6 separate regions of the Homo sapiens genome follow, and all the other regions are linked to region 5. The links come from fine-mapping of genetic effects on gene expression. A gene starts in region 5. Each other region holds a variant in brackets. All regions are shown on one strand. Distances are from middle to middle.

The links. PIP is the estimated chance that this variant, and not a neighbour inherited with it, causes the effect.
Region 1: its variant is the best candidate, but not a certain one, in a credible set for the expression of MFHAS1 in whole blood (INTERVAL, PIP 0.79).
Region 2: its variant is the best candidate, but not a certain one, in a credible set for the expression of MFHAS1 in skeletal muscle (GTEx, PIP 0.90).
Region 3: its variant is the best candidate, but not a certain one, in a credible set for the expression of MFHAS1 in monocytes (TOPMed, PIP 0.73).
Region 4: its variant is the best candidate, but not a certain one, in a credible set for the expression of MFHAS1 in whole blood (TOPMed, PIP 0.80).
Region 6: its variant is the best candidate, but not a certain one, in a credible set for the expression of MFHAS1 in whole blood (INTERVAL, PIP 0.56).

The regions. Positions count from the first base shown.
Region 1 is chr8:9,018,081-9,023,145 of GRCh38, forward strand. It overlaps ERI1 (exoribonuclease 1), which reads left to right. Exons shown (of 7, transcript NM_153332.4): 5 at 217-326; 6 at 2,270-2,384. Among named protein-coding and RNA genes, the nearest start is that of ERI1, 18 kb to the left of the region's middle. The variant A/G (reference allele first, on the strand shown) is at 2,922.
Region 2 is chr8:8,802,080-8,807,143 of GRCh38, forward strand. The region is part of intron 1 of MFHAS1 (multifunctional ROCO family signaling regulator 1); the gene reads right to left. Among named protein-coding and RNA genes, the nearest start is that of MFHAS1, 89 kb to the right of the region's middle. The variant G/A (reference allele first, on the strand shown) is at 2,515.
Region 3 is chr8:8,819,298-8,824,367 of GRCh38, forward strand. All of the region lies in intron 1 of MFHAS1 (multifunctional ROCO family signaling regulator 1), which reads right to left. Among named protein-coding and RNA genes, the nearest start is that of MFHAS1, 72 kb to the right of the region's middle. RefSeq lists an enhancer at 2,412-2,954. The variant G/C (reference allele first, on the strand shown) is at 2,518.
Region 4 is chr8:9,032,336-9,037,400 of GRCh38, forward strand. ERI1 (exoribonuclease 1) reads left to right here. Exons shown (of 7, transcript NM_153332.4): 7 at 1-1,003. Among named protein-coding and RNA genes, the nearest start is that of MIR4660, 14 kb to the right of the region's middle. The variant G/T (reference allele first, on the strand shown) is at 2,752.
Region 5 is chr8:8,891,077-8,896,149 of GRCh38, forward strand. MFHAS1 (multifunctional ROCO family signaling regulator 1) reads right to left here and starts at 2,554. Exons shown (of 3, transcript NM_004225.3): 1 at 1-2,554. The coding sequence starts at 1,982. It also overlaps the pseudogene RNU6-682P. RefSeq lists enhancers at 1-14, 15-974, 975-1,935 and silencers at 1,780-2,049, 2,160-2,439, 2,450-2,699.
Region 6 is chr8:8,863,809-8,868,881 of GRCh38, forward strand. All of the region lies in intron 1 of MFHAS1 (multifunctional ROCO family signaling regulator 1), which reads right to left. Among named protein-coding and RNA genes, the nearest start is that of MFHAS1, 27 kb to the right of the region's middle. RefSeq lists a silencer at 4,671-4,965. The variant A/C (reference allele first, on the strand shown) is at 2,978.

The DNA of each region.
Region 1 (5,065 bases), 130 kb after region 5:
ACTTTTCAGTTGAAAGTAGTCCCAGTACTTGGTTATGAAATTTTTAGAATTTCTTAAAAATGAAACTTTAGGTGGAGCTAAGCCAAGGAAACCATGAATTTAAAGTATCAGCCTTTCTCATACTGTTTCTTCCCCTCCAACTTAGGTCTGGGTATTTTGTAGGTCTACGTGAAGCTGCAGCCCTGATTTTTGTATATTTTACTTTTATATCCTCAGGATCAGGTAGACAGAGCTGATACCTTCCCTCAGGTACTAAAAAAAGTAATTGACTGGATGAAATTGAAGGAATTAGGAACAAAGTATAAATACTCACTTTTAACAGATGGGTAAGTATTTAGGAAGATTATTTTTTTATATCTACTTTTTAAAGATTAAAGATACCCTTATTTATCTGATTTTTAGAATAACCACAAACTATTATTAGAGACCCTAGAGTCTCACCCCACAGGGAATAGTATTTTTCCTTTCACCTAAGGATGAAAGAGAGGAAGAAAACAGTGGTCACAGTCCAATACAGGACTAGAACACTACAGAAAGTTAAAAATATGTAAAGCTAAAAAGACTTTGCTAAAACTCTGTTTTTTCATGACACTTCCTTACTCAAAAAAGTTCAGACTCTTGAGCTTGGCCTTGAAGCCTCTTTCCTCTCATCCCACGCTACCTGTTTAATCTAATTCACCTGCCATTAATCCTCTTTAGTCAGACTGGCCCAGGAATTCACATGGTTTACCCTTTCTCTGTGTAGTTACTTATGCCTCCCTCTGTACTGAGAGTGTCTTCTCGACAACTTTATCATTTTTCAAAGCCCATCTTGTGTTTTACCCTGACAACGCCATTGATCTTTTTTTTCCTTGAAACCTTATAATTTCTATGGTATATACCATTCATGTTGACATCTGACCATATATTCTGATATATAATCTTTGTGTACATACATAAGACTTACTTTTGCAAGGAAATCTAAAATTCTTTCAGAGAAGGACTTTTGCTGCCTAATAATCTTCCATAATGCTTACCTTAGTGCTGAGCTTAAAGTGTATGCCCAAAAAGCATTTGTTAAATGAAAAGCTAAATGGGAAGATCAGAAAGATTAAAACATAGATGACAGACGTTGTGCCAGGGCAACTCCGATACCTTAAGGCCATTAAGGTTGAAAAGAACGTCCTAAACAACTTCTGTTTCAAACTGTGCAGGTTATCCTCTATACCTGAGATGTCACCAACATAGAGGGTTTGGAGATCCTCACATGTGATAGGAGAAAAGCATTGAATTTAATCACATCATAACTGTTAAGTTTGGAAAAATGTTTATGGACCTCTTTAGAAATCCATTACTGATTTTAAACATGAATGAGCAGTGCTCTGCTAAAGTATACAGGTGTTTCTGCTGTAGTATAGTATACGCAGTTCTGGTAAAGTCTCATTTTGTGGGACAGATCACTCAAAACCTATGCAATTTTGTAACAAGAGCACTAACAAAAACCAATCATTAGAGTCTCCATTAATAATTTGGCAGCCCAGGCAAGCAGCTCAGGGAAGGTGAGGTTGCGTCAAAGTATATGAAAATTGTACAGAAGCACTAGTGTCCTGGGGACATACACTTATTTTTAATTTTCTTATAATATAGTTGACAGTATTATAAGAAAATACAAAGGATTATATCCTGTTCCCAGTATAGCAGCTGAGTTGAGGGCTTTTCTTATTTCCTGCTGAAGTTTATAATTTCCACTGCTATTATTCTGACTCTCCTTGCCTAAGAAAAACCACGTAGGAACCAACACAATTTCCATATTACACAATCAGTATTGTCCTTAACTACAATAAATTGGTTAGTGTTATAGAAAAATGTTGTAGCAGAACAGATTGTATTTTAACCATTTGATACCAGCTGCTTTTGTTTCTTTCATTTTTTTGTTTTTGGTTTTATTTCAAAGCATGCTGTCAACTTACCATGCTAAGTCTGGCAGTAAAAGTAAGCTTAGCATAATACTCAGCAAGATAGAAGCCTGCCCAGAACCATGAAAACAATCAAGATGAGCCTAATAGGAATTAGTTTGTGAACAAAAGTTAATATATCCGACTTCTTTGTTTGGTTTTTAAAGCTTAATTTTGAATTAGTATTTTGTAGGAAGCAAGGTTAATTTTCTCAGCTTGATGTTACATTTGAATATGAGAAAGTTGACATATATAAATAAATGATTTAAAATACTCATTTGTAAGAATAGCATAGCGTTTATTTCATCAATTTTTTGTCCTTTTTTAATTTATAGTTCTTGGGATATGAGTAAGTTCTTGAACATTCAGTGTCAACTCAGCAGGCTCAAATACCCTCCTTTTGCGAAAAAGTGGATCAATATTCGGAAGTCATATGGAAATTTTTACAAGGTAAAATTTCTATATTTAATAATTACGTGGTTCTTAATGATAAATTTGTTAAAATTTGCATGTACGTTAGATTGTAATTTTCCAGGTGTTTTTCATGGAAAAAAGCCATATAATTAGTTCTTACTCTTCAGATTCCAAATTCCTTATGTTCAAATTAGATAAGCCTTTTTCTCATTCAACCTGTTAACTTTATTTAAGTAGGTTAACTATATATACCTGACAAGTTTGAAACTGTAGGGGCAGTCAGTATGTGGATTGTTCATGGAGCAAATGCTCCCCACTAGATTTTAATTTTACTTCACATTTATCAAAGTTAATATGCGTGTGCCGTGTAAATGTTTAAAATATTATTGCAAGACTTACAATGAATGGCAGTCTTCTGCCATAGCCTTCACCAGAACTGGTTCCTGTTCTGAGGCAAACACTTTCAACTTATGTAAAGCTCTGTTTTTGTTTTTGTTTTTGTTTTTTTTCAAATATTTACCTTTGTATTTCTAAGTTTCATGCTTATACTACTTCTTGACTTTTCAGTTTGCG[A/G]TCTATTGAATTCCTGCCCTGAAAGATCAAGATTGAGTTCAATTAAGTTACCACTCCTGCTTGTCCTTCCCTTCCTGCATCTTCCTACTATAGCTCTATTACCTTTCAGTCAGAGCACTCAGTGTTCATACTCCCGTGACTATGGAGAGTGTCCACAACTTTCCCCTGGATGTAATAATTTACTTCCGCGGTTGTTTACTTATCCCCTTACTCTCCATTCAAACTGTAAGTCACTTCTTATGACTGAGAACACTCAGGTAGTCTGTCAGGTTTTCTTTTTTCATCTGTTTTTCCCTTGCAGACTATCTTCCTGGAGCCTTTAATCCTGTTCTAATCTGAACTGTTAGTTCTTCAGGCTTCTTTTAAAATCATCTTAGGGGATTTCCTTTAATTCTCATGCATTAGATACTATGTCATTTTTCTCCCTTTACAGTTTCATTTTGGAGAAGCATGTTCTAAAGTAGTTTCATGAGAAAAGGTGCTTTTCCTTACAGACTCTTCTGTTTTAACAGTCTTTTAAAACTGAGAAGTATGCATGCAGAAAAGTAGAGTTTTGCCGATTGCTATAAAGCAAATACCCTTGTAACTTCCACCCACTTAACTCCCTTCCTTCCTCCTGGAGTTAACCCTAATTCTTCCTTTCATGGTAATCATTTTCTTATTATTCCTTATAGCTTTAGTATTTAAATGTATATCCTTATATTATATAGTTTTGTCTGGCTTTGAGCACGATATAATTAGTATTATACTGGCTATATTATTTGTTTTTTTTGTTTTTTTTTTTTTTTCAATATTATGCTTGAGATCCATCCACGTCTTGTATGTCACTGCAGTTCATTCACTTTATTGCTATTAATTCCATTGTGTGACTATACCAGATTTGTTTATCTGTTCTACTTTGGCTGGCCATTTGGATTGTTTTTATTTGGGGCTTCCATGAAGAGTACTTTTATAAGCATTGTTGTGCATGTCCCCTGGTGTCTGTGCACTCGTTTTTCTAAGAAAAACCTAAGAGTGCAGTTGCTGGGTCATGGGATATGTACATCATTGACATTACTAGATAATACAAAAATAGTTTTCCAATGGAATTGTACCAGTTTGCACTCTTATCAGTGCTATGTGAGTTTATAGTTACTGTAAGTTTTTGCTAGCATCTGATATTGTCATACATTTTAAATGTTTTGTAAATCTGACGGGTGTGTGATACCATCTCATTGAGGTATCAGCTATCTGGATTGCTTTTTTGCGAACCCCTTATTTAAATTTCTGACTGTTTTAAAAAAAATTGGGTAGTCTGTTTTTTCATTACCTGTGTATTTTACTGGTCTATAGATTTTTACTTTGGGTGCTAGTCCTTTGATTATATTTGATAATCTTTTTGTGTGAATTTATTTTGTTTTTTGGTTTATTTGTCTTTGAGATGAAGTCTCATTCTGTTGCCCAGGTTGGAGTGCGGTAGTGCGATCTTGGCTCACTGCAACCCTGTCTCTTGGGTTCAAGCAGTTCTCCTGTCTCAGCATCCCGAGTAGCTGGGACTACGGGCGCCCACAACCACAACTGGCTAATTTTTGTATTTTCAGTAGAGACGGGGTTTCGCCATGTTGGTGAGGCTGGTCTCGAACTCCTGGACTCAAATGATCTGCCCGCCTCGGCCTCCCAAAGTGCTGGGATTATAGGCGTGAGCCACTGCACCTGGCCTTTTGTGGATCTTTTTTTGTGTTTTTGAACTCATTTTGTGAATTTTTTTAAAAATTGTGTTATGGAAAATTTCAAACATAACAGAAATAGGTATGAGTCCTCATGACCCAGGTTCAACAATTAGAAACTCATGGCCAGTCATGTTTCATGTGTATCCCCACCCACTTTCCTCTTCCTTATTATTTTGAGGCAGAAGTCAGACATTATGTTATCTGATCTGTAAAAATTTCATTACGTAGCTCCAAAAGCTAAGGGTCATTTTCTTAGAAACACAGCTACCATACCATTGTGACATCTTAAAAAATTAGCAGTAATTCCTTCATCAAATAGTCATAAATATTTTCTTTTACCTTTTGTGTGTTGAGTCAGATCAGGATAAGGTTCACAGATTTGTAGTTGGTTAATATGTCTCTTAAGTTTTTTAGTCTTTGATATGTTTGGTATGT
Region 2 (5,064 bases), 89 kb before region 5:
AGCAGCAACTGACATTGAGCGAGCACTTTTTACTGGCTTAATGTTGTTTATGTACCATCTCAGTCTTCACAACAACACCAGAAGGGAGGGACAATTATTATCCTCATTATATACAGAAGAGGAAATTGAGGCTCAGATGCAAGAGGTAGTTTGCCAATGGTCACAGGAAGAAGTGGCTGTGCTGAACTCTGACAGTAGGACTGACTAAACTCATCACTACCAGATATCCTGTGTCAAGGATAGCATGATGTTTAAATTAGGTAACACATACACGAAACATACTGAACACTGTATCTGGCACCTAGTAAGTACTTGACCCTATTACTGTAGTCACGAGAAGATTCTCTAAAGGCTTACTCTTCTAAATACACAAAGAGTTCATACAAGCGCATGTGAGGACATGGCGAGAAGACACCATATGTGAATGAGAAACCCCTCACCAGATACCAAATCTGCTGGTGCCTTGATCTTGGACTTACCAACCTCCCACACTGTGAGAAACAGATTTCTGTTCCTTATAAGCTACCCAGTTACAAGGAATGAAGGGTAGGGTATGGAGCAGCTCCTTGCATGGTGGAGAAGCTGGCTGGACTGCCCTAGGCCAGACTGTCCATGATCAGCTGGCCAAAGCTAGCAGGCAGGGGACTGTCCTCTGGGTGCCAACAAATTCCCTGGGAAGCTATCTTGGGGGGTGAAGGAGCAGGCTGTGCGGAAAGCAGGCTACAGAACTTTCTGGGAAACATGATGAGGCAACAGCTGTGGTCCCTGGAAGGCCACCCACACGGGATGCTGAATTCATGGGGAAGGCAGGTGGAACATCCTTAAAGGGGCTGAGTTGCTGCTGAACTTGCAAGAGACTTACCCAAGGTATGCAGGCTATCGGTAGATTTGGCAACAATCTTCCTGCATAGCCACTAACAAGTCAGCTGGGGTACCCACAGGTATATTCTACCACTAAGCCACATATACTCTTAAGGGGTTTTGGGGATTCAAAGAGTGGTTCCCCAAAACTGTAGGGATGTTGCATTCTTCCTGTGAACAAGGTTTGCTCTTGGCTCAATTACAGAGTTAGCCCTCCTTATCAGTGAGTTTTGCATCCACGGATTCAACCAACTGCAGGTCGAAAAAATTGTTTTTAAACTGCACCTGGGCTGGACGTGGTGGCTCATGCCTGTAATACCAGCACTTTGGGAGGCCGAGGGGTGGGGGCAGATCATTTGAGGTCAGGAGTTCAAGACCAGCCTGGCCAACATGGTGAAACCCCCATTCTCTACTAAAAAGATGAAAATTAGCCAGGGATGGTGGTAGGCACCTGTAATCCCAGCTACCTGGGAGGCTGAGGCAGAAGAATCGCTTGAACCCGAGAGGCAGAGGTTGCAGTGAGCCGAAATCGCACCACTGCACTCCAGCCTGGGCGACAGAGCAAGACCCTGTCTCAAAAAAAAAAAAAAAGAAAGAAAAAGAAAACTAAATTCCATCTGTACTGAACATGTATAGACCTTTTTCTTGTCATTATTCCCTAAACAAAATAGTATAACAACTATTTACATAACATTTGTATTGTATTAGTTATTATAGGTAACCTAGAGATGATTTAAAGTAAGGGAGGAGGCTGGGAGCAGTGGCTCACACCTGTAATCCCAGCACTTTGGGAGGCCGAGGCAGGCAAATCACCTGAGGTCAGGAATTAGAGACCAGCCTGGCCAACCTGGTGGAACCTCGGCTCTACTAAAAAAACAAAAATTAGCGGGGCATCGTGGCACATGCCTGTAATCTCAGCTACTCCAGAAGCTGAGGCAGGAGAATCACTGGAATCCAGGAGGCAGAGGTTTCAGTAAGCCGAGACTGTGCCATTGCACTCCAGCCTGGGCGACAGAGTGAGACTCTGTCTCAGAAAACTAAACTAAAATAAAATAAAGCATCCGGGAGGATGTTCGTAGGTTATGTGCAAATACCATGCCACTGGATATCAGGGACTTGAGCATCCAAAGACTTTGGTACCCATGGGGGTCCTGGAACCAGTGCCCCACAGATATCATTCCTTTTCAAAACGACTCAAACTCATAGGCTCACTTGATAATTGAATATATCCTAAGGTATGGTTCCAACGACAGCTACAAAAACTTACACCATCAAAAATTATGACCCTCTCCTAGAACCGTTTTCATTTTCAGCACACATCTCTGCAACTCTTCAAAATGTAGGAATCCACTGAGTTCTGGGCAATTTAACAATGTAAGGAAATTTCCATTTTCAGGCATTTGTGGAATTCTCAAGTCCGGTTTTGATATTGAATGCTGAAACTTCAATAAAATAAAATAAACAAAAAACAAACAAACAAAAAAACAACATTCATAAACACCCTTCAGCGTCTTGAAGCTTTGGAAACCATTTGTGAAGTCTTAGCAGTCACAGAGTACAATCGGTAGGGTAAATAAACCAGGCCAGTTGGGGCCTCTCAGAGATGCCCTTAAATCAGAAAGCCCTCAGCACCTATCTTCAGTGAGTATTCAT[G/A]GCCTGGTCACTAGGCAACACTAAACAAACTCAGTGTCAGCACTTGGCTTCTTCCACTTCTTCCAAGCATCCTCCAAAGTGGTGATAGTTATAGGCAGAAGGAAGAAAAAAGGCCACACTCTTGATTACTTCTGCGACTCACACAATGGTTCTCAGATTCTCCCAATGAATAACGCCAGGGAAGCCGTGCCAGGCCCACACACTGGGCACGGATGACGGGCGCCTTTCAGTTTTCCTTTCATGGCAGGTGCTCCACCTGGAGCCCATGACCTCAGCTTTTCCTTGTTTAGCCCAACTCCTGGCAGAAGACGATCGTCCTGACAGTAATGTTTGCTTGCTAATTACATAAAGCTTTGTTAAAATTATTTTTTGGTTTGAAAGATAGGAGGGAGAAGGGGATGACTAAATGATCTCAGGTTTGCTAAACCAAGAAGAGCTGCAGTTGGTCCAAGGGCCCCTTGAGGGATCATCAGTCAGGTCTCTTCTAGATCAAAAAGCTGAGGCCTCAGATCACAACGGCCCTTCCAATGCATTTGGTAAACGTTCAACCACAGAAAGCCAAGGGGAAAAAACTGCTACTATTTTTCAAATCTCTACCAGAATTTAGTCTCTTCCCTCACATTACAAGCTTATATAGTTGACCCTTGAACAATCAACACCCCAAGCAGTCAAAAATCCACGTATCATTTCTGACCACCCCCAGAACTTAACTACAAAAAGCCTACTGTTGACTGGAAGCCTTACCAATAATGTAATCAGCTGATTAACAGATATTTTGTGTGTCACATATAGCATGTGCTGTATTCTTACAATAAAATAAGCTAGAAAAAAGAAAATGCTATTGAGACAATCTTGAGAGAGAATATATTTACTATTCATTAAGTGGAAGTAGACCATCATAAAGGTCTTCCTCATCATTGTCTGTTCATTGAGGAGGCTGGGGAGGAGGGGGAAGAGGAGGGGTTGGTCTGGTTGTCTCAGGGGTGGCAGAAGTGGAAGAAAATCCTTCTGTAAGTGGACCGGCACAGTTCAAACTCGTGTGTGTTCAAGGGTCAACTGCATTTCCCTTTCATGACAACCTTTTGTTTGGAGGGTTTTTTGTTTTGTTTTGCTTTCTTTTTTGAGACAGAGTCTCACTCTGTTGCCCAGGCTGGAGTGCAGTGGCATGATCTTGGCTCACTACAACCTCCACCTTCCGGGTTCAAGAGATTCTCCTGCCTCAGACTCCCAAATAGCTGGGATTACAGGCGCGCACCACCATGACTGGCTAATTTTTGTATTTTTAGTAGAGATGGGGTTTTGCCATGTTGGCCAGACTGGTCTCTAACTCCTGTGACCTCAGGTGACCCGCCCACCTTGGCCTCCCAAAGTGCTGGGATTACAGGCGTGAGCCACTGTGCCTGGCCGTTTGGGGGTTTGTTTGTTTTGTTTTGTTTTAAAAATAATTCATACAAATCCAATCCTCTGTAGCATTGTTCCCTACGTCTTCCTCATGCCTGGTTATTTGCAATTCCTCTTCCTCCTGCTTTCTCTGTTTCTAATACCTGCAACAGGAGAGCCCATCTCCCCTCCTCCAAGCCACTCTTCCTCACGGGACGCCCACCTGCTGCAAAAGCGTCAGAGTCTTGGCATCTCCAGAGTCCCTGGGGAGTTTCCTTCCCCAAGTGTCCATTACAACACTGGGATGAGAGGCCAGGTAGAAACTTCAGGAGCATTCCACTTTGAAGTGTGAGGCTCTACCAGACACAAAATAAATATAACTGGGGGCCAGAATAAACATCCAGGGCCAGCAAGTGAACCTGGCTTACGTGGCATGCATTAATATTTGGAGAAATTTCCCCAGCGAGGTTGCAGGAAGCTGAGTCACCTACTAAGAAGGGCTTTATTTTTGGTTCTAAAAGACAGAACAATAGCAAAGTAAAATATTGTTCTATATCAAAGTTCTTTAAACTTACTGTTCTCAGCATCTTCATCAGTCCCAGATTAACCCTGACACTATACAAATTGCAATAACACAAGAACAATAGATGCTTTCTCTAGATTTTGTATGAGATTTCTCTGGAATTTCTAAAAATCCTAGAAAGGGGCCGGGTCCGGTGACCCAGGCCTGTAATCCCAGCACTTTGGGAGGCCAAGGCTGGCAGATCACTTGAGGTCAGGAGTTCGAGGCCAGCCTAGCCAACATGTTGAAACCCCATCTCTACTAAACATACAAAAATTAGCCAGGCGAGGTGGTACACATCTGTAATCCCAGCAACTTGGGAGGCTGAGGCAGGAGAATCGCTTGAACCCGGGAGGCAGAGGTTGCAGAGAGCCGAGATTGTGCCACTGCACTACAGCCCTGGGGACACAGCCAGACTCTGTCTCAAAAAAAAAAAGAAAACACAGAAAGGAACCATGAGGCACCACTTGAAGCTTCAATGAGGTGGTTTTATGATGTTGGGGGTATAGAAAATCATTCCTCAAAATATGGCACCTGAGCACGCTGGGCGCTTTTGAAAGCTGAGCGGCCCCTGAAGTAAGCCTCAGAATGAAGGTCCCTCTAACCTT
Region 3 (5,070 bases), 72 kb before region 5:
CATTTCTTTAAGAATATCCAAGAATTGGCCGGGTGCGGTGGCTCACGCCTGTAATCCCAGCACTTTGGGAGGCCGAGGTGGGCGGATCACGAGGTCAGGAGATCGAGACCATCCTGGCTAACAGGGTGAAACCCCATCTCTACTAAAAACACAAAAAATTAGCCGGGCATGGTGGCGGGTGCCTGCAGTCCCAGCTACTCGGGAGGCTGAGGCAGGAGAATGGCGTGAATCGGGAGGCGGAGCTTGCAGTGAGCCAAGATCACGCCACTGCACTCCAGCCTAGGCGACAGAGCAAGACTCCAACTCAAAACAAAAAAAAAAAAAAAAAAGAATATCCAAGAATCTGGCCAAAGTGGCTGCCTCCAGAAAGGGAAATACATGGCTGTGGACAGAACAGACAACTTCCTTTTCCCCAAAGAGCCTTTTGTACCTTTTGAGTCACCCAGGCTGGAGTGTGGTGGTATGATCACAGCTCATTGCAGCCTCAGCCTCCCAGGCTCAAGCAATCCTTCTGCCTCAGCCTCCCGAGTTTCTGAGACCACAGGTGCGCACCACCATGCCCAGCTGACTTTTTCTATTTTTGATAGAGACGGGGTCTTTACATTACCCAGGCTGGTCTCAAACTCCTGAGTTCAAACTATCCTCCCGCCTCGGCCTCCCAAAGTGTTGGGACTGCAGGCATGAGCCACCACACCCAGTCTATACAGACTATCTATGAAACACAAAACTTAAAATAAACAATCCCAGTGTAAATTTAGTTTTTGTTCTGATTTTTCCCCCAGAACAGCTCTCTCACATTTAAAAAGTCTTTCTCTAAATTTATTTAATTACAAAAATTAACAGTGCTGGTTTGAATAAGGAAATAAATATAAAGATGTGCAAAGAAAAGAATATAATCCTTTCCCTTACTCCCCCTTCCCAAGTCCCCAGAGTTAGACTGCTATGCTCCCCCTTCCCAAGTCCCCAGGGTTGGGACTGCTGTGCTCCCCCTTCTCAAGTCCCCAGGATTAGACTGCTGTGTGCCCTTCCCTACACCTTTTTCCAAAAGCGCATGCACACATCAGGAATTTTTTGTGTTGATTTCTTTTCTTCCAAGCAGAATCAAGCCATAAGCATAACTGCAACATTCTCTTCTTTCATCTGACAGTCAGGTTAGCGTGAGAATGGTATTTGGTCCCAATTCCTTTATTCACTTGATCTCAATGTCTTTCTCTTCCCCACCCTGCCCCTCCACCCGTGCTCACCCAAACAATTTTACGTAAGTAGACTAATATCATGAATTTTTTTTTCATGGAATCCCCCATTGCCTAATCAATCTCCTTGCATCCCCTTGAGGAAATGAGGCTACACGTCCATGTTCCCATCCTGTGGTCTTTCAGAGGCCCTCTCACTTGGGGCTGGCTCCCGCTCTGAGATTATCTCTAGTCAGGATGGGAAAAACTCCAGGGGTGCCCCGGGAAAATCTCTAGCCGTCTGGCCAGGCAGTTAAAGGTGGCCTTGACCAAGTGCGAAGCATGATTCCAGGCCAAAGCTGTGCTGCCATTTGCATCGTGGAATTAAATGATCTAAGTGGAGAGCCACTGGATGCTTTGAACAAACCCACATCACACATTTAATGAAGAAAAAATAGCAGCAGTGAGAGAGAGAAGCTCTCAAGCAAGACCTGGCAATGCTTCTAATTTCACTGTCCTTCCTACCCCTCTTCCTTTAAAAGCCAACAGAGATGACAGCCTACGTGAGTCAGCACAGGGAAGTGGGGAGGCCTCTGGGTCTCAGTTCCACATATCTTCCCCCTGCCTGTTCCCAGGGGTCTGCAGGTCCAACGGCCACTCCCTGCGAGTCCTTGGGTGTCAGAGGGAGCAGCTGCCAGGTGGAAACGGAATGAACTGCCTGCCTGAACTGCCTGCCGGGGGATTAGCAGCTTCTGTGCAAAGCTTACAGGATGCCTCTAAGGCCCCTGTGGCAGGAGGTCAAAGAATCTTAACAAGGAGGTGGGAAGTGGAAATAGAAGGTCACTTACTACTAAGCCTATTTCCACCCTGCATTTTTGGTTCTTGGATTTCATCACGCCGAATTTTACAGAATGCAAGTAAGTATGTACAAAGATCGAAGATCGGCATGGAGAATAGCATGAAGCAGTAACCTCCCTCCCAAATTTGCTTACAACTCTTATGTCCATACAAAGTTGTTATTAATGCCACAGGTTATGAAAATACCAGTCAATCATCACTGATTAATCACACTTTGATTTATGCCAGAACTTCACATTTTCTTAAAAGGTGGGGGGTGCTTTTTAAATATCGCACAAAAAAGCCAGCAGTGTTTAAATCTTCCTTTGATGTTGCTACACAGACTTGATGTATATTAAATCCTCCTCTGCCTCCAAGCATGCAAAGATGTTAGCAGATACTACGCAGGTTTTCCATCAAGGTTTTAATAAAATCCTATTGCTATCAAACCTAGTCTAGGTGCCTAATAGTAACTTTTCCAACTATGTGCAAAAGACAGCTGGGTTTA[G/C]TCACCGTAGGAGCATGTGGACATCTGAGGAAATCACTGATTAACTGTGGATAAGCCCGCGTCAAAAGGAGAACAGCGCAGCGCTGGCTTTGGGGTCTGGCTCCAGCTCTGCCATCTCCTAGCAGCGGGTCGCTCGACAAATGGCTCTGACAGCTCTAGGCCTGAGTGCACACGTCTAAGGGCAAGGTCACCGCATGCCTCGTAAGACTGTGGTGAAGCCTGCACGAGATGCTATACGCAAGTGTGTAGCATGAGGCCTTGAGACCCTGGCCACACACAAGACGAGGACTCTCCACCCGGCCACGGGCAGCCAATTCCTCTGTGCGGCAGCACCAGGCAGGCTGAGAGGAGCTGAAGCAGGCAGATCAGACAGCTCCCTGGGGATTTGAAATTGGGGTGAGAGATAGAATTAGTCTGTGGTGGGGGACTGAAGCCAAGAGAGGCTGGGGCGGTCATTTGCATCGTGCGCAGCTGCAGAGCAAGCTGGTCTGAGGGGAGAGGAAAATGGAGCGAGTCCTCAGGGAGAGGGTGAGATGGCACTGAGACGTGACCATGCCTGATGCAGAGGGACAGAGATGGGGGCAGGGGATGGAGCGGGAGACAGGGGACCACGCCAGGGGCACTGAGATGGGGACAGGGACCAAGTCAGGGGGGATTGAGATGGAGACAGGGACCCAAGTCAGGGGGACTGAGATGGGGACAGGGATCACGTCAGGGGGATTGAGATGGAGACAGTGACCCAAGTCAGGGGGCCTGAGGTGAGGACAGGGACCAAATCAGGGGGAATGAGATGGAGACAGGGACCCAAGTCAGGGGGACTGAGATGGAGACAGGGACCCAAGTCAGGGGGACTGAGACGGGGACAGGGACCAAGTCAGGGGGACTGAGATGGGGGCAGGGACCAAGTCAGGGAGACTGAGATGAGGACAGGGAACCAAGTCAGGGGGACTGAGATGGTGACAGGGAACCAAGCCAGGGGGATTTAGAAGGGGACAGGGACCAAGTCAGGGGGACTGACACAGGGACAGGAACCAAGTCAGGGGGACTGAGACGGGCACAGGGACCAAGTCAGGGAAACTGAGAAGGGGTTGGAATGACTGAAAACCAGAAAATCAGGACAGGAGGTACCGACAGGCTGGTGGCGGGAAGGGAGGGTAACAGAGCCAGGCATGGGATCCCGCACAGAGGACACAGACAGAAGACCGGGAAGGAGAGACAGAGGGACACAGGACAGTCTCGAATTCTAGTCCATACAGAGATTCTCTTCCCCATCCTTGGAATCTGGGGATAGCTCTCCTCCTGCCAGAATCCTGACTTTCCTTTCAAATTAGCTCAAGAGCTCTGACTAGAACACAGTAACTACAAACGGTTTTTCTCAGGGGTATCCATTTTTCTCATTAACTGTAAATGTTTATTTGCAAGTTACTATGTGGCTCTAACAAATTATTATAAAAACAGCTTCTGAAGCCTTGCTTTCAGATGAATAATGTTTCTCTCTGTATCCAGAGAAATGTACTGTGAAGGCCCGGTGGGCATCGCTGCCAGAACAAAAAGAGTAAGGAGCTGGACACGGGGCCCCGCGCTCCGATCCTGGTGCTGCGCTAACTCCCTGCAAGTTCCCGAAACACCGTGAGTCCTCTGGGCCTCGTCCCTTCTACTGCAAAAGGAAGAGACTGAACTGGTTTATCTCTAGGGTCTCTTCGAGCTTTAAATAGTCTGTTCCAGCTTAAAATACTGTAAAAATATATTTTCTACTTAATTTTCTAGGCTTCATAAAACTCCTCACAAATTTAGCATGAAGTAGAACAATCGCCTAAATAGGGCACACAAACATGTCCTTGGTTCTCCCAGGCCACCACTTCCCTAATTCTCCCGTCTTCAGTCTTTGACACAGGTAATGAACCCACAGGTCACCGAGAAGAGCATCACCTGCGAAATTTCAAGACCCACGGTGGCTGTGCTCCATCTCTGATGTAGCACAGAAGATAGTGGGGGCTGAGAAAAGAAAGAATCTCGCCTCTCAGAGATGTGCCTGTCTCCATGCGCTTCAAAGATCTTAGCCACGTCGTGCATAATGTATGAGTGAGCGCTCACAGAAAAGGCCTGTTACGCAGTTCTCTATCACAGCAGATTTCCCTACAGGGAAGAAAACAACGGGAAATCATATAAAAATAGGAGAGATTTAATTTTGTGCTTAAATAAACATGCTTTTCATTCCCTACTTAGCAAAAACAGTTCCCCCTAGGAGCTCAGGCTACCTGCCTGTGAGGCAGAACTAAATCTATGCATCCGTACAGCTCTTTTGTCTGACACCTGACCAGTGGGGTCCTCTATGCTCCCTTGAGAAGAAGCCAGTAAACAGACAGGCAAACTCCATAAATAAGGCCACCTTCTCAGGGGCTCTGCGGGGAGCAGGATGCCTGGAGGCCAATCTCTCCTCACCTTCCATCATCTAAGCATCTCACATCTTGCATCTTCTTAAGCATCTTAAGAAATACAGGACTGCCTCCCTCCAAGCACACAGGGTACCCCGGAGTCCTTACCCACTCCAGC
Region 4 (5,065 bases), 140 kb after region 5:
ATGCTTCATATGCTCTGACATTGACATAGTGGATTTCTGCTGATTTTTTTCAAATCCGCAATCTTTATAACCAACTGAAGTATATAATAGAGCATTACATTTTATCTTTATTTGTGTTCTGTTGGATCAAGTATTTAACATTTGCTCTGAAAAAAATGTTTTTGTGATGTGTCTTTGTTGCCTTGAGATAGATCCATTTATCCTGCCTCCTAGGGAGAAGTTTCTGCCTGGATTGAAACAAAAAAACACAGGCGTCACAAGCATGTTACCTATTAAGAGAGAGAGGGTATCTCTGAAGACTAATTAAAATGGTAATTTTTAAAAAGATGTGACCAGTTGACTTTTAGTATATCATCCCAAGTATTATCCCCAAAATGATAATGCAAAACAGAATAATTTGGAGACCAGGAGAAAAACTGGTATGATTACTGGGGAGGGGAAGAAGCACAGGTGGTCAAGATAATAATGCATGTTTGGCCTCAGCTGTAGTTGCCAAAGAAACTACCTGCCTCACAGATGAGCACGCACGGGTGCATTGTCAAAGTCTGAGAAGGATGTATTGTACTTTGAAGGAAGACTTTCCATTTCTAAGCTACCATGGAGAAGTATATGCTCCTCGAGACCAGAGACTGTGACTTCTGCATCTTTGATTCCAGCGACATATGATAAAATGTTTTGCACATAGTTGAATCCAGCGTTGATACATGAAGGACAGCATTACATCTTTTTTCTATTATACTTAGAAATTTCCTCTTTGTTCTGCACCACCAACCTGTATATCAAGCCTCCTTGCCCCACAAAGCTTCCAAAGCCCGTAAATTTGTTAATCTAGAGCAGGGGTCAGCAAACTACCACCCATGGGCCAAATCTGGCTGCTGCCTATTTTTGTATGGCCTACAAACTATGGTTTTTATATTCCCTTTTGTTAATGGCTCAAAATAATATTTTGTATAATACGAAAATTACGAAATTTTAGTTTCTCTAAATAAAGTTTTGGAAAGAACTACCATTCTCATTTGTTTTCATGTCATCTCTGACCACTTTTGTGCTACAATGGCAGAGTTGAATAGCTGCATCAGTGGCACCATCTGGCCAGCAAGGCCAAAAAATACTACTGTCTGGCCCTTTATGGAGAAAGTTTGCCTACCCTTACCTCCCTTATGTAATGCAATATATAAGTTCCATCAACAAACAAGAAATGCGACTGTGATGAGAGCGTAGAGCTGAATGTTAAGGTACAATGATACTTGCATCAGACATTTATGGAGCACTGTTAAGTACTTTACTCCATTGTTTAGTAAGAATCTGGTGATGGAGAGAGGCATTCTCTGCAGTTTACAGATGGGAAAGTTGAGGTCCAGAGCGGTTAAGTTGCCAAAGTTTAAGTAGTGGGAGCTGTAGATTCTGGCAGTATGGCTTGAGCCTTGCTCTTTATCTCTGTGCTATGCTGCCTCCCGTTGTAGACTTTGGCTTAACCTGATATTCCAGGAACAGGTAGGTTGTCCTAGGTAGAATAAACATCTTCCTGTATGGTTTAAACTAGACATTTTCAATGCGATTGTACTAAATGTTGCAAATCAGGAGGTAATTTGATGTTCATTCTTTGAATGAAACAATATAAAATACTGTTAACTTCTAATGTGACCAGCTGTAAGGTTTTTTCGGAGATGGGGATAAGTGGAGAAGGAGAACGATTTTTGCTTTAAAATTTCCTCCATGTTCTTGAGATTAGAAATGTTAGTGTCTTGAGTTTATAATGACACAGAGGCTAAAGGGCTTAAGTTTGACTGATGAAGAGTTGGAAGTACTTGTTTTTCTGGATTCCTTACCAAGACTTGGGTAAGGGGCGGATGCCCGAGGCTTTAAACCAGATCTGCTTTTCTACTTGCAAGTGAATGTTCTCAAGGTAAATTTCATTAGATTTGTTTTAGGATGAATACTGCTCAATCATTGTGGAGCCACAAGGCATGCTTCATTTTATTGCACTTCTCTTTATGTGCTTCGCAGATACTATTTTGTTTTGTTTTGTTTTTTAACATACTGAAAGTTTGTGTGAATCCTGTGTGGAGAAAGTCTATTTATGTCATTTTCCCAACAGCATACTTTCACTTCATGTCTCATATTTTGGTAATTCTCCCTATATTTCAAACTTTTTGATTATTATTATCTCTCTTAGGGTGATTTGTAATCAGTGACTTTTGATGTTACTATCATGGTGGTTTTGGGGCACCACAGACCACACCCATATAAGACAACGAACTTAATTGATAAATGTCTGTGTTTTCCCCATCGCTCCCTCTCCAGACCTACCTATTCCCTGAGACACAATATTGAAATTAGGGCAATTAATAAGCCTACAGTGGCCTCTAAGTGTTCAGGTGAAAGGAAGAGTCACATGTCTTCCACTTTAAATCAAAAACTAGAAATGATTAATCTTAAAGAGGAAGGCATGTCAAAAGCTAAGACGGGCTGAAAGCTATGCCTTTTGATCCAAATTAGCAAAGTTGTAAACCCAAAGGAAAAGTTGTTGAAGGAAATTAAAAGTGCTGCTCCAGTGAGCACACAAGTGATAAGAAAGCAAAACAGCCTTATTACTGATATGGAGAAAGTTTTAGTGGTGTGGATAAAAAATCAAACTGCAACATTTCCTTAAGCCAAAGCCTAATCTAGAGCAAGACTGTAACTGTCTCATATTCTGTGAGGGTTGAGGGAGGTAAGGAAGCTGCAGAAGAAAAATTTGAAGCCAGCAGA[G/T]ATTGGTCCATGAAATTTAAAGAAAGAAGCTGTCTCCATAAAACAGTGCAAGGTAAAGCAGCAAGTGCTGATGTAGAAATTATAGCAAGTTATCTAGCTAAGATCTAGCTAAGTTATCTAGCTAAGATCTAGCTAAGATAACTAATGAAGGTGGCCACACCATACAACAGGTTTTCAATGTAGATGAAATAGCCTATTCGAAGAAGATAACATCTAGGACTTTGATAGCTGGAGAGAAGTCAGTGCTTGGCTTCAAAGCTTCAAAGGACAGGCTGATTGTTGTTAAGGGCTAATGTAGCTGGTTTAAGTTGAAGTCAGTGTTCATTAACCATTCTGAAAATCCTAGGGCCCTTATGCTAAATCTACTCTGCCTGTGCTCTATAAAGGGAACGGCAAAGCCTGAATGACAGCACATCTGTTTACTACATCATTTACTGAATATTTGAAGCCTGCTGTTGAGACTTAGTGCTCAGGAAAAAAAAAAATCTGTTCAAAATATGACTGCTCATTGACAATGCATCTGGTCATCCAGGAGTTCTGATGGAGTTGTATAAGGAGATTAATGTTGGTTTTAATGCCTACAAACACAATATCCATTCCACAGCCCATGGATCAAGTAGTAGTTCTGGCTTTCAAGTCTTACTATTTAATAAATACATTTCATAAGGCTGTAGTTAGCATAGGTAGTGATTCGTCTGATGGATCTAGGCAAAGTCAGTTGAAAACCTTCTGGAAAGGATTCACCATTCTATTCTGAATGCCATTACAAGCATTTGTGATTCGTGAGAGGAGGTAAAGATATCAACCTTAACAGGAATTTGCAAGAAGTTGATTTCAGTCCTCATGGATGACTTTTAGGGGCCCAAGACTTCAGTGGAAGAAGTCACTGCTGATGTGGTGGAAATACCAAGAGAACTAGAAGTGAAGATGTGACTGAATTGCTGCAGCCTCATGATAAAACTTGAGGAATTACTTCTTACAGATAAGCAAAGAAAGTGATTTCTTGAGATGGAATCTATTCCTGGTGAAGATGCTGTAAACATTCTTGAAATGACAGCAAAGGATTTAGAATATTACATAAGCTTAATTGATAAACCAGTGGCGTGGTTTGAGAGGATTGCCTCTAATTTTGAAAGAAGGTCTGTGGATAGAATGCTATCAAACAGCATGATAAAGAGAAATCTTTTGTGAAAGCACAAATATCAGTTGATGGAGCAAACTTCATTGTTGTCTCATTTTGAGAAACTGCCACAGCCACTCCAATCTTCATCACCTACCACCCTGATCACTCAGTAGCCCTCAACGTTTGAGGCAAGATCCTACACCAGCAAAAAGATTATGGCTTGCTGAACACTCATGATTGTTACCTTTTTCTAGAAATTTAATCTTTAAGGTATATATGTATTTTTTAGACATAATGCTTTTGCACACTTCATAGACTATTGTTTAAATTTAACTTTTATATGCACTGGGGAGCCAAAACATTTGTGTGAGTTGCTTCATTGTGATACTCCCTTTATTGCAGTGGTCTGGAACTGAACCTGCAGTATCTCTGAGGTATGCCTGTATATAGTATGATCAAGAGCAAGTTTAGAATACAAGTCATTTTTTTTTTCTATTGAGTAAAAGAACAAAAGAGGAGCAAGGTTGTGATTTTCTGTTTGCTAATGTAGTGTGGCACACCATCACTGGTGATGGCAGATTGATGGAGGGCAGCGATTGAGCCTTCCCCTTGAAGTGTCCATTCTTGCTTGCCGACTCTGCACCTTTGAACATAGACCTGTTTTCCCTTTGGATTTATTTTTGTCAGTGGGACCATGATTATCACAGTCACATAGGATTGAAACCATGAAACTCATAGTCCCTCCCTCCCCCTTTTAGCACAATGTCCTTTATTGTCCAGTCACTTTATCCTCACCCCAGCCTCTGTTATCATCATTGCTACACAGACTATTGCTAAAATTTAACAGACTTCTCTCTTGCTGTCTCTTCCTGTATACCACTGTCATAAAAAACCTTCCTAAAATGTTGCTTTGCACACTGATCTCAGAAACCTTCACATTTCTGATGGGATAAAACTCAGCTCTCTGTTGGCATATAAGAACCTTCACAGTCTGATTTCTGTCTGCCAACTTTTACAGTAACCATCTGCTCTAGGGTAATAGTTACTCCCCTCACCATCACACTCGCGTTGAGTCGCATGTGCACCATCCTACTTCTGTCCCCAGGAAGTTAGCCCATCAGTCTTATTCTCTTGATTCTGTTTTGTTAAAGACCTGCTGTGATTTCAGCCTTCTTCCCAGACAGCCCGGAC
Region 5 (5,073 bases):
CGAGGCAGTACTCTGTGTAAGTTGGGGAAGATCTCTCGGTGCTCAGCAACTGACAGCAACTTGTCCCGAAGGCGTCGTAAGTGGCGCGGGTCCCTGCAGCTAACAGGCAACACGGGGGAGAGGATCTGCAGCCGGTGGTTGAGCAGGTATTGAAAATGGGCCTTGCGCCGTCGAAGGTTCTTGTCCGAAACGCCATAGTAGGCTGCGTGGGGGCTGGCAGAGCGCAGCTCGAAGTCCCGGGCCAGTGCCTCGTCCACCACCTTGGCCAAGCGGCTCAGTCCCTCCGCGTCGTGCTTCTCCTGCAGGGCGATCTGGCGGTGAATGTCCAGACATTTCTCCTCCAGCTCACGCTCTCCGCACAGGTCTGCGTGGGTGCCCACGATGCACACCACCGCGTGGGGCACTCTCGCCCCGACCCGATGCAAGAAGGAGCCCACGGTGGTAGGAAAGTGGCGAGGCTCATAGGTGGCCAAGTTGACCACCAGCACGTATAGGGCCCCTGGGGACAGGAAGAAGGGCTGGATCACCTCATAACTTTCATCCCCAGCTAAGTCATACACGATGAACCGCAGGCCCCGGGAGGCATCGGCCGTCCAGCTGGTCACCTCGATGCCCTTGCTCACAGGGGGAGGTGACGGTGGGTAGCACTTCTCCTTGTCCCCTCCTCCTGGGCATCCCTCCACTCTCTCCTCGGTGAGGCAGTGGCGCAGCAAAGTCTTTCCTGCAGCCTTATGCCCCATCAGGAGCAGCTTGAGCCGGGGCTGCACCGCCGGCTGGGAATGAGCCAGTTCCTTCTGGTAGGCTGCGATGTAGGGGATCCCCTTCATGCAGACCTCGTAGGGGGGCTGGATCAGTGGGTTGTCTTTGATCTTCCACAAACCCACCCGGGAGAGCTGGCCAAAGTGGTCGGGCAGCACCGCGATCTGGTTCCCCTGCAGCACGAGCTCCTCCAGGCCGGTCAGCTCCACGATGGAGTCCGGCAGGTAGCGGATGCGGTTATTATCCAGCCACAAGGTGAGAAGCCGGCCCAGGCCCGAGATAAGGGATGGCACCGAGGTGAGCTGGTTGCGACTAAGGTAGAGCTCCTCCAGACCAGCCAGGGGCAGCAGCGCGGCAGGGAACTCCTCGAAGAGGTTGGAGGAGAGGTTGAGCATTTTGAGCCGCTGCAGGCAGCTGAACTGGGCGGGCAGAGCCTGCAGCCCGTTGTTGTCTAGCATGAGGCTCTCCAAACTGGCCAGCTCGCAGAAGCCGGCGGGCAGCGTGCCAAGCTCGGCCCCACTCAGCCAGAGGATCTTGAGGGCACGCAGGGCACTGATATCCTCAGGCAGGCCCCGCAGCCGGTTGCTGGACACGTCCAGCTCCTCCAGGGCCACCAGCTGCAGCAGCTGCCGGGGGAAGGCAGTGAGCTGGTTGTGATCCACGTCCAGGGTGCGCAGGCGGGAGAGGCAGGAGAGGGAGTCAGGCAGGTGCGCCAGCCGGTTAAAGCTGACATCCAGCTCCTCCAGGTGAGCGAGAGCGCCCAGCTGGGCGGGCAGGGCGGGCAGCTGGTTGTGGCTGAGGTTGAGCTTCCGCAGCTCCCTCAGAGCACTCACCACCTCCGCGCCCAGGGCGGTCAGCCGGTTGTGGCTCACGTCCAGCTCGGTGAGGTGGTGGCCGAGCTCGGCCACCGCCGGGGGCAGCCGGGCGAAGCGGTTCCTGCGCAGGACCAGGACGCGCAGGCTGCCCAGCGCCGACCCCAGCCCCTCGGGTACCTCCTCCAGGCCGTTGTTCCCCAGGTTCAGTGCCTCAATGTCCCCGAGGTTGGCCGGCAGCACGAGCTGGGGGGAGGCGGGGGACTCGAGCGCGTCGGCCCCGGCCCCGGGGCAGGCCCCGGCGGCGGTAAGCGTGAGCTGGCGCAGGTTGCTCCGCAGCTTCCTGGCACGCAGGGCGGCGTCCCGCCACAGCCTCGCGGTCTTCAGGTTGCCACTGTCCATCCCAGCCATGGCGGGGCCCCGGGCCGACAGCCTCACGCGGACGCGGGAGCCCGCAGCTACATGCCGCGCCGCGCCCCGGGCCCTCCGGCTCCTGCCCCTGCCTGCCCTCCCGCGCTCGGCGGCCGGCGGCCGCGGGTCCTAGCGCAGCCAGCGGCCGAGCGCTGGCGGCTAGGGGGCGGCGGCGACGCGAGCGGCTCCGGGGGACGCCGAGCGCGTGGAGAGCAGCTTGCATTCTCCCTGCGGCCGGGCCATGGGCGCGCCGGGCAGCAGGGCCGCCGCCCGCGCGCCGCGGAGGATGCCTGCTCCTCCTCCCTCTCCGCCCGCCGCGCGGCGCCTCGGGGGGCCCGGCTCCGGCCCCGCTACCCTCGCAGCCGCGGTCCCGCGGCCGGCAGCGGCGTCGCCTCCTCGAGCTCCTGGGGGAGGGCGGCGCTCGGCCCGGCGGCGGGCATGCTGCGGGCGCAGGGCTGGGGCGCAGCCGCGGGGAGGGGGCGGCGGCGCCTCCTTGTCTCCGTTTCCCCGGGCTCGGGCGGGAGCGCGGGCGCCGCGTCCCCGGCGCTGGGAGGGCGCGATTGGGAAGCGGCAGCGCCGCCCGCCGGAGCGGCCCCCACGTGACCGGCGGAGGCGCCGCGTTTTCCCGGCACCGCCCCGGGGGCGGGAGCTGCGGAGGGCGCCGGGTGCGGGGCCGGGGGCGCCTGGCGCGGGGCCGGGTCCGCGCCCCGGACCATGCTGGGCGGGGAGGTCGTCCCAGCGGCGGATGTGGGGCTCCGGGGCCCCCCTGGTGGGTTCGCCCGCGCCTGGCTCTTTGTTGGCCCCCAGTCTCTAAGGATTTCTTTTTCTTGTTCTCTAATGCGTCGGATCCGCCGGCTTCCCTTACTCATCCTTTACCTGCTCCCCTGCCGCTCGCCTTGCATCCACGCCGTAGTGGAACTGGCACAACTCGGGGGCCCTGGGTATCATCATAGAAGCTTAGGACAAGAGTGTGGTTAAACAAAATTAGAACAGGCAACCATTCATTCATTTGGTAAATATTTCCTGAGGCCCTATTTCGTGTTGAACATGGGACAGGAGTAATGCAGGCTGGTCAGAGGAGAATAAAAAATACCAGGCAGCAGTTTCACTTGACTGGAGGCTATGGGCTGATAAGACCCTGAAAACCAGGGTGTGTACCAAGCTGGCTAAGACCGGCTGGACCCGACGTGGTCCTGGATTTGACCTAGGTTTCTCCTAGGCCTCCATTATACGCTCTTTAACATCCTAAGTCACACCAGTGCCATGACAATTCCGGGGACACCCATATTTGAAGTAAAAATGGGTGGCACCACAGTCCCGAAAAATCTCCACACTTTTCCAGGAATTTTCATGAATATTTCACCCCTTGGTTAAAGAAACCCATAAAGGTAGCAGCCCCAAGCCCCGTTGTGAGTGACCCTCTCCACAATCCCTTTTCCTGGGTGTGTACTTTTCCCTTTGCAATAAATCTGCATATTGTCACTATTTTCTGAGTTGTCCTTGAACTCATTCTCTGGATGTGTCAAGAGCCTGGACATTGGCTGGGGTCAAGGTCGCACTGGCTTTAGAGGATCTCCCCCAGCCCACCCGTACCAGAACTACTAAAAGACGGTTTTAACCCCCCTGGGGAAGGCTTTTGAGCAGGTGGCCCGCCAGCCTAAAGGAGGGTTGTTAAGATGGGGGGGACACAAGCTGTTTATCTGGGGTATCCCGTTTATCTTCACAACAACGCTGTGAAACAAATACTGTATCCCCATTAATACAGTACCTGTTGTTCTGCGGACTCAAGAAAACAGCTATTTTGGGAAACAGTCACAGTCCATTGTTCAACTCTAATGCTTATTTTTATTGCTGTTAGGAAATGTTTCTTTGAGCTCACATCTATGCTAAGTCAATAATTTCTCCCGAACTTATGAAAGTCTGGAAACCTACCAAGACTCCCAGTGTCACCTCCATCATTCCCTTCAGGTTGATTGATAAGGAAGCAAATAGTTTTCAGGGACCGAAAACTGCGTTCAGTTGGTTAAAGGCATCACTTGACCCACTGCAGCTCTCCCCGACATGCGCTATGGCTGTCATTTGGGGACCCATATTTGGTGCAGTAACGTGAGAAGTGTGTGTTTCCAAAAAGAGCACCTGAACATCTGAGGCTGGAAATCCACCCCAGTGATGGTTATCAGGCTGCAGGTAGTACATGCTGTAACTGGAGGATGTTCCCCAGTTCTGCTGGGTCCCTGAGGCTCTGACACCACAGATGAAATGTGAGTAAGTGAACAGCAAGAGCTGATCTGTGTTCACTCTGAAGGACTTCCGAGAGTTCAGATGGCTCAGGGTAGCCCCACCCACACTCCCTCCCAGAGACAGTCAATTTTACAACAAATATTCTGAGTTATCTAGGCTGACCCTTTTTTTCCCCCACAGAGGAGGAAATGGGCTCAAAGTAAGTGACTTCTCAATCAGCCATCAAAGTAGAGTAGAGGCAGGACTGCTAACTCCCCGTGTGGAATGTATTCCCCTGTGATCATCACCTGTACTCACACTGTTCTTGAGCCAGACCCCAAATTCTCCATCCTGCAGCTTCTTCTAACAAAAATATGAACTCAGCCTGGGTAAGGAGACTGGAGTAGGCATCACCATCCTACACCACCTTACATGATTATATCTCAATAACTGCTAACTGTTCCTCTTTAGAAGCCATCAGAAAATTATACTTCCTCCTGCAGAAGCTGAAATCAATTGAAAAAAATGAAAATTGTGCTTGCTTCAGCAGCACATATACTAAAATTGGAAAAATACAGAGAGGATTAGCATGGCCCTGCACAAAGATGACATGCAAATTCATGGTGTTCATTTATTTAATAATATTTTCATTTAAAAAATTATTTTAAAAAAGAAAAATGGCCGGACATGGCATCTCATGCCTGTAATCTCAGCACTTTGGGAGGCCGAGGTGGTGGATCAGTTGAGGTTAGGAGCTCAAGACCAGCCTGGCCAACATGTCAAAACCCCATCTCTACTAAAAATACAAAAATTAGCCAGGCATAGTGGTGCGCACCTTTAGTCCCCAGCTACTCAGGAGGCTGAGGCACGA
Region 6 (5,073 bases), 27 kb before region 5:
ACCCTGTCTTAAAACTTAAGAAAGTTGCATTTGTTTTATCTGAATTCCTTTCTCAGAAAACCAACCATCAGGGCTCCCAGATATCAAGGAGCTGAAACTCACCAGATCACTGCATTTGGACAAGGAGACACCAGACCCTTCACCCATTATGGCTGCCTCAGTGACCACCAGCTTCCTGTTGACCAACTCCTCTTCCTTATACCTTCCTAATTCCTGTTTACCGGCATGTAGTTACATTGCCTTCCCACTATATAAGCCCCCAATTTTAGTTGGTCAGGGAGATGGATTTGAGACTGAGCTCCCATCTCCATGGCTGCAGTACCCGATTAAAGCCTTCTTCCCTGGCAACACTTGTCTCAGCAGTGATTGGCTTTCTGTGCGGCAAGCAGCAGGACCTAAACCAAATCTCTGGTGTTCTGGTAACATAAACACAGAAGGGTAAGTTAAAAAAACAAAGCCATTTTCTGCCCCTATGCTCAACCAAATCTGCTGCTACTGGCCATGAGGGCCGCCCACTGCACGATTCAAGGATGCCATTCACACCAAGCAACAAAATGGCCCTGCCCGACTCCTCCTCCTCTTTGCCCACCCTCCCACATTAGTAGAAACAATGTCTTCCTATCAGAATCACCAAGTAAAAATATTTTTAATGTTCCTTGGACCAAATTCATATCCTAAATATTCTTATGTTAACCTTGATGTGTTTCAGACAAGTCAAAATGCAATCTACAAATAACTGTTTCAGTGAGATCACTTTTTATTTCTCCTAAAATCCTCATATATTTACATCATCTTACAGAACCACAATGAGCATAAAATTAGCTACTCTCTTCCTATCATTTGTACCAGCTACCCACCAGACACTTTTGAAATGTATCATGTAAACTGAATTTTCCAGTTGCATGCCAGGATAAAAGTCCTTGAACTTGGGGTCACTTGGCAGTCATTTTATCTTTAAACTCACACCTACAGGCACTAGGGAAAAAAGGAAAGGGAAGGAGAGAGGGAGAGAGAGAGGACTCAGATAAGATGATATCATAAAGTTATATAACATGGTGCCGAAATTGTCTCATCCAAAAAATTACTTGAGATTTCTTTTGGCTTTAGGTATGAACCACATATTAGTTACTAGAAAGGGTATCTAGTTTCCACCTAGATTAAAAAACAAACCAAAAACATGTTTCAGGCCAGGTCTGGTGGCTCATGCCGGTAATCCCAGCACTTGAGGAGGGCAAGGTGGGTGGATCACTTGAGGTCAGCAGTTCAAGACCAGCCTGGCCAACATGGTGAAACCCCATTTCTACTAAAAATACAAAAAGTTAGCTGGGCACGGTGGCATGCACCTGTAATCCCAGTCACTCAGGAGGCCGAGGCAGGAGAATCGCTCGAACCCAGGAGCTGGAGGTTGCAGTAAGCCAAGATTGTGCCACTGCACTCAACCCTGGATGACAGAGTGAGACTCCATCTCAAAAAAAAAAAAAAAAAAAAAAAAGAAATGTTTCACTGTCAAGATGACAGGCTGAGAAATTATTTCCCCATAAAAACCTAGCTCCACTTAGTTTAAGAAACAAAACTCAAAAGGCAAAAATCAGAAACTCCTGGATACAAAAATCAGAAATGGGAAAAGAGACACAAGGTACAGAGGATGGAGAGGAAGGAGACTAGGAGTTACTACCCTAACTCGATGAAAGCTAAACACAACCAAGGACCCCTCCCAGGACAGCCCTGGTGAAGTGGAATCACATAGAAAAGCAACAGATGACACTTGACATGAATTACTGTCCAGAAAACTTCATTTTAGAAAATGGCTGTTAAGTACAATTGTATATCACTCAACTGTCAAATCCTAGTCTACTCAAGGTGAGGCTCCTATAACTTCTTTGAAATTTCTAGTAATTATTATCTGAACTGAGTTGCCACTATTAAACCAGGCAGCCACTTAGTCCAACTATTTTTGGGTCCCAAATTTAACACTTAGTGTCTTAGAAGAATTTAATTTTCATAGTCCAAAAAGGTCAGAAGCCTGGTTGATGTAAAACAAGTGGTGTCTATTATTTCTCTCAGGAAGGCAGAAAAACTAGGGCAGGGATTACTGCAGCTACAGAATGACTGTCCTCCACACCTCTCCTTGTTCAGGCGGCTTGGCCTACTCTCCTGACAGTGCAGCCACGGAAAAAGTGCCAAAGCATGCCAACCTCAAACAGAGGTGATGACAGAGAAGCTGAAATCCTGGTTTCCCTGGGGATTTGGCTGGCCAATTTTTAGAAAGCTCTACTCCTAGCTGAAGTGCTTTTATTATTCTCTTTTTCTAAGCAGGAAGAATACAGAAGAACAGGGCCTGGGAACCTAGGAGCACTTCTCTTTACCATTGGTTCAGTAAAATCAGTGTCATTTTGCCTGCGAAAAGCTCTCTAACTGATCCCTGTTTTATCAGACGATAAAACTCTGACGCTGAATGGGAACCTAGAACAGGGATCTATGGCAACTTAGCAAGGATCACTTCTTTTTTGTTTTTTTTTTTTTCTTTTTTGAGACAGGGTCTTACTGTCCTCTAGGCTGGAGTACGGTGGCGTAATCTCAGCTCACCGTAGCCTCTGCCGCCCTGGCTCAAACAATCCTCCCACCTCAGCCTCCCCAACGGCTGCAACTACAGGCATGCACCACCACGCCCAGCTAATTTTTTATTTTTTGTAGAAATGGGGTTTTGCCATGTTGCCCAGGCTGGTCTTCAACTCCTGGGCTCAAGCGATCCTCCCACCTCAACCTCTCAAAGTTTTGGGATTACAGGCATGAGCCACTGCAGTCAGCCAGTAAGGATCACTCTTATCCCTAGTAAAAAGGATCCGTGATACAAAATGGCCACTGAGTCCCTTCTCTCTCCCCAGTCTCTTACACATTCTCATAAACAGTGATTGACTCACTTATTTTCTGCAGAAGACAGAATGGCATGAATGGGACGGAAACGGTTCATATGACT[A/C]CTTGGATATCTCTCATCCTGTGAACCAGTCTAACAAGCAATTACCTTGAGGAATCTGAAAATAAAATCGTGATATGAATTCATGAATCAGGAAAGAACCGTGTACTTGCATAATTAGCCTTCTTTAGAGAATGGGGAAATACATATCTGATACAAGACAATTTTTAAGGTGTAATCCCATCATTTGCAAGTCACTAAGAATAAATGTGAAGGTGACAGTGGGAAAAAAAAGAAAGAGAAAGAGAGATGGGTTGGTATGATCTATTTTTAGCTTACAGTTCAGCTACACATAATATATTAACAAAATTTCTGATACTGCTAAGGTGCATTAATATAGATTAAAGGAAACAAGATAATAAAGGAGATGGACTGAGCTCTTCAAGTCTGTACTAGTAGGAAATGGAATTAAACACAGGCTGTGGGGTTTTATGAAAGTCACAATGGTCATCAGCATATGCAAACCCACTAAATTCTTCACCATATAAACTTTTTGTTACATTTTTATAACAAAAGTTAAAAATATACCCTCACATTTTTGAAAGTATGCTTCTTATGGTTCCTAAGATACCAAAAATAAAATAAAACATTCCTAAAACAGTCCAAAATTAAAAGGAGGCCCATAGGTACTTGCCTATAGGTGTCGCACAGAAAATTTTTTTTATAAAAACAATGTTTCTACTCTTTTATTATTAATCCAACCCCAGAATTTTAAAAGTATGCAAAGTATTATTACACGCCAATAAGCTAATGATAATTCAAACATTATAAATTGCTATACTTTTTTTTTTTTTTGAGGTGGAGTCTCGCTGTCTCCTAGGCTGGAGTGCAGTGGCGCAATCTCGGCTCACCAAAAGCTCCGCCTCCCGGGTTCATGCCATTCTCCTGCCTCAGCCTCCCAAGTAGCTGGGACTACAGGCACCCGCCACCACACCCGGCTAATTTTTTGTATTTTTACTAGAGACGGGGTTTCACCGTGTTAGGCAGGATTGTCTCGATCTCCTGACCTCGTGATGGGCCCACCTCGGCCTCCCAAAGTGCTGGGATTACAGGCGTGAGCCACCGTGCCTGGCCATAAATTGCTATACTTTTTTAGTAACAGGTTAAAAACCCTGGGATCTGAGGGAAAGACCAATTGTTTAACTCCATTCTTCATTCTCAACATGTGTTTCCTACCGCTAATAAATGGAACTCGAGTTTTTCCATGGCCCCACTCAGTTGGAAGAATCCTCTTTCTCGCCTGAACTTCTGTGGCACTCTGTCCAGACTGACTTTTATCATTTATTATAATAAGTGGTATAGCGCACAAACCTGATCCATTTTCTAGACCAAGTTCCCAACGCACAGGCTCTGAGGGGGATTCAGTTGAATCTCCCAGGTGCTTATTCCTTGCTGCAAGGCCTCTGGAAACTCCTGCTTTATGAATCTAGAATCAATGAATAAATATCCTGACAAATAGCTACTTACATGTAAACTCTAGATGTTATCTCATTTCTCTACACTGCATGAGCACTGTGTTGTATCTTTCGGCTAATAATATAGACAAACTAAGTTAATGATTATTCTTGCAAAGATGCAAAGATTTTTTTTAATCTAGTATGAACTAAAAGCCATAATTAATCACCGAGAAGGATAGCCTCAACTTTTTTAAACTGACTGTAAACTGATTACCTAGTGCCACTCGGCTAATACACTGGAACCAGCCCTTGGTAGACAGATGTGCCCTTCCAAACAGATATGCACAGTAGGCCTGGGCTCATCCCAATTTGGAGCTACTCCCAACTACTCGGATCTTTGCCTTGGATCAGCCCAACAAATGAGCATCTTATGGAAGATGAGGCCGCTCACAAACCCACAATGAAATACATGGCTTGGGCCCTCTCTAATGAATTACTCATGAGTCAGGCATGACACCTGAGTCTGGGAGGCTCCTCTCATAAAGTCGGTAGTAACCTTAACATAGAAAGAAGTTATAAATGACTATGCAACCTTACAACTGGCTTCCACCCATAGTCATCGCTACTTCATATGCAAACAGCACCTCTGATATCTCACTCAGATTCTAAAGAAATCTTTGCTAGGGGAAGAGAAAAAGGGAG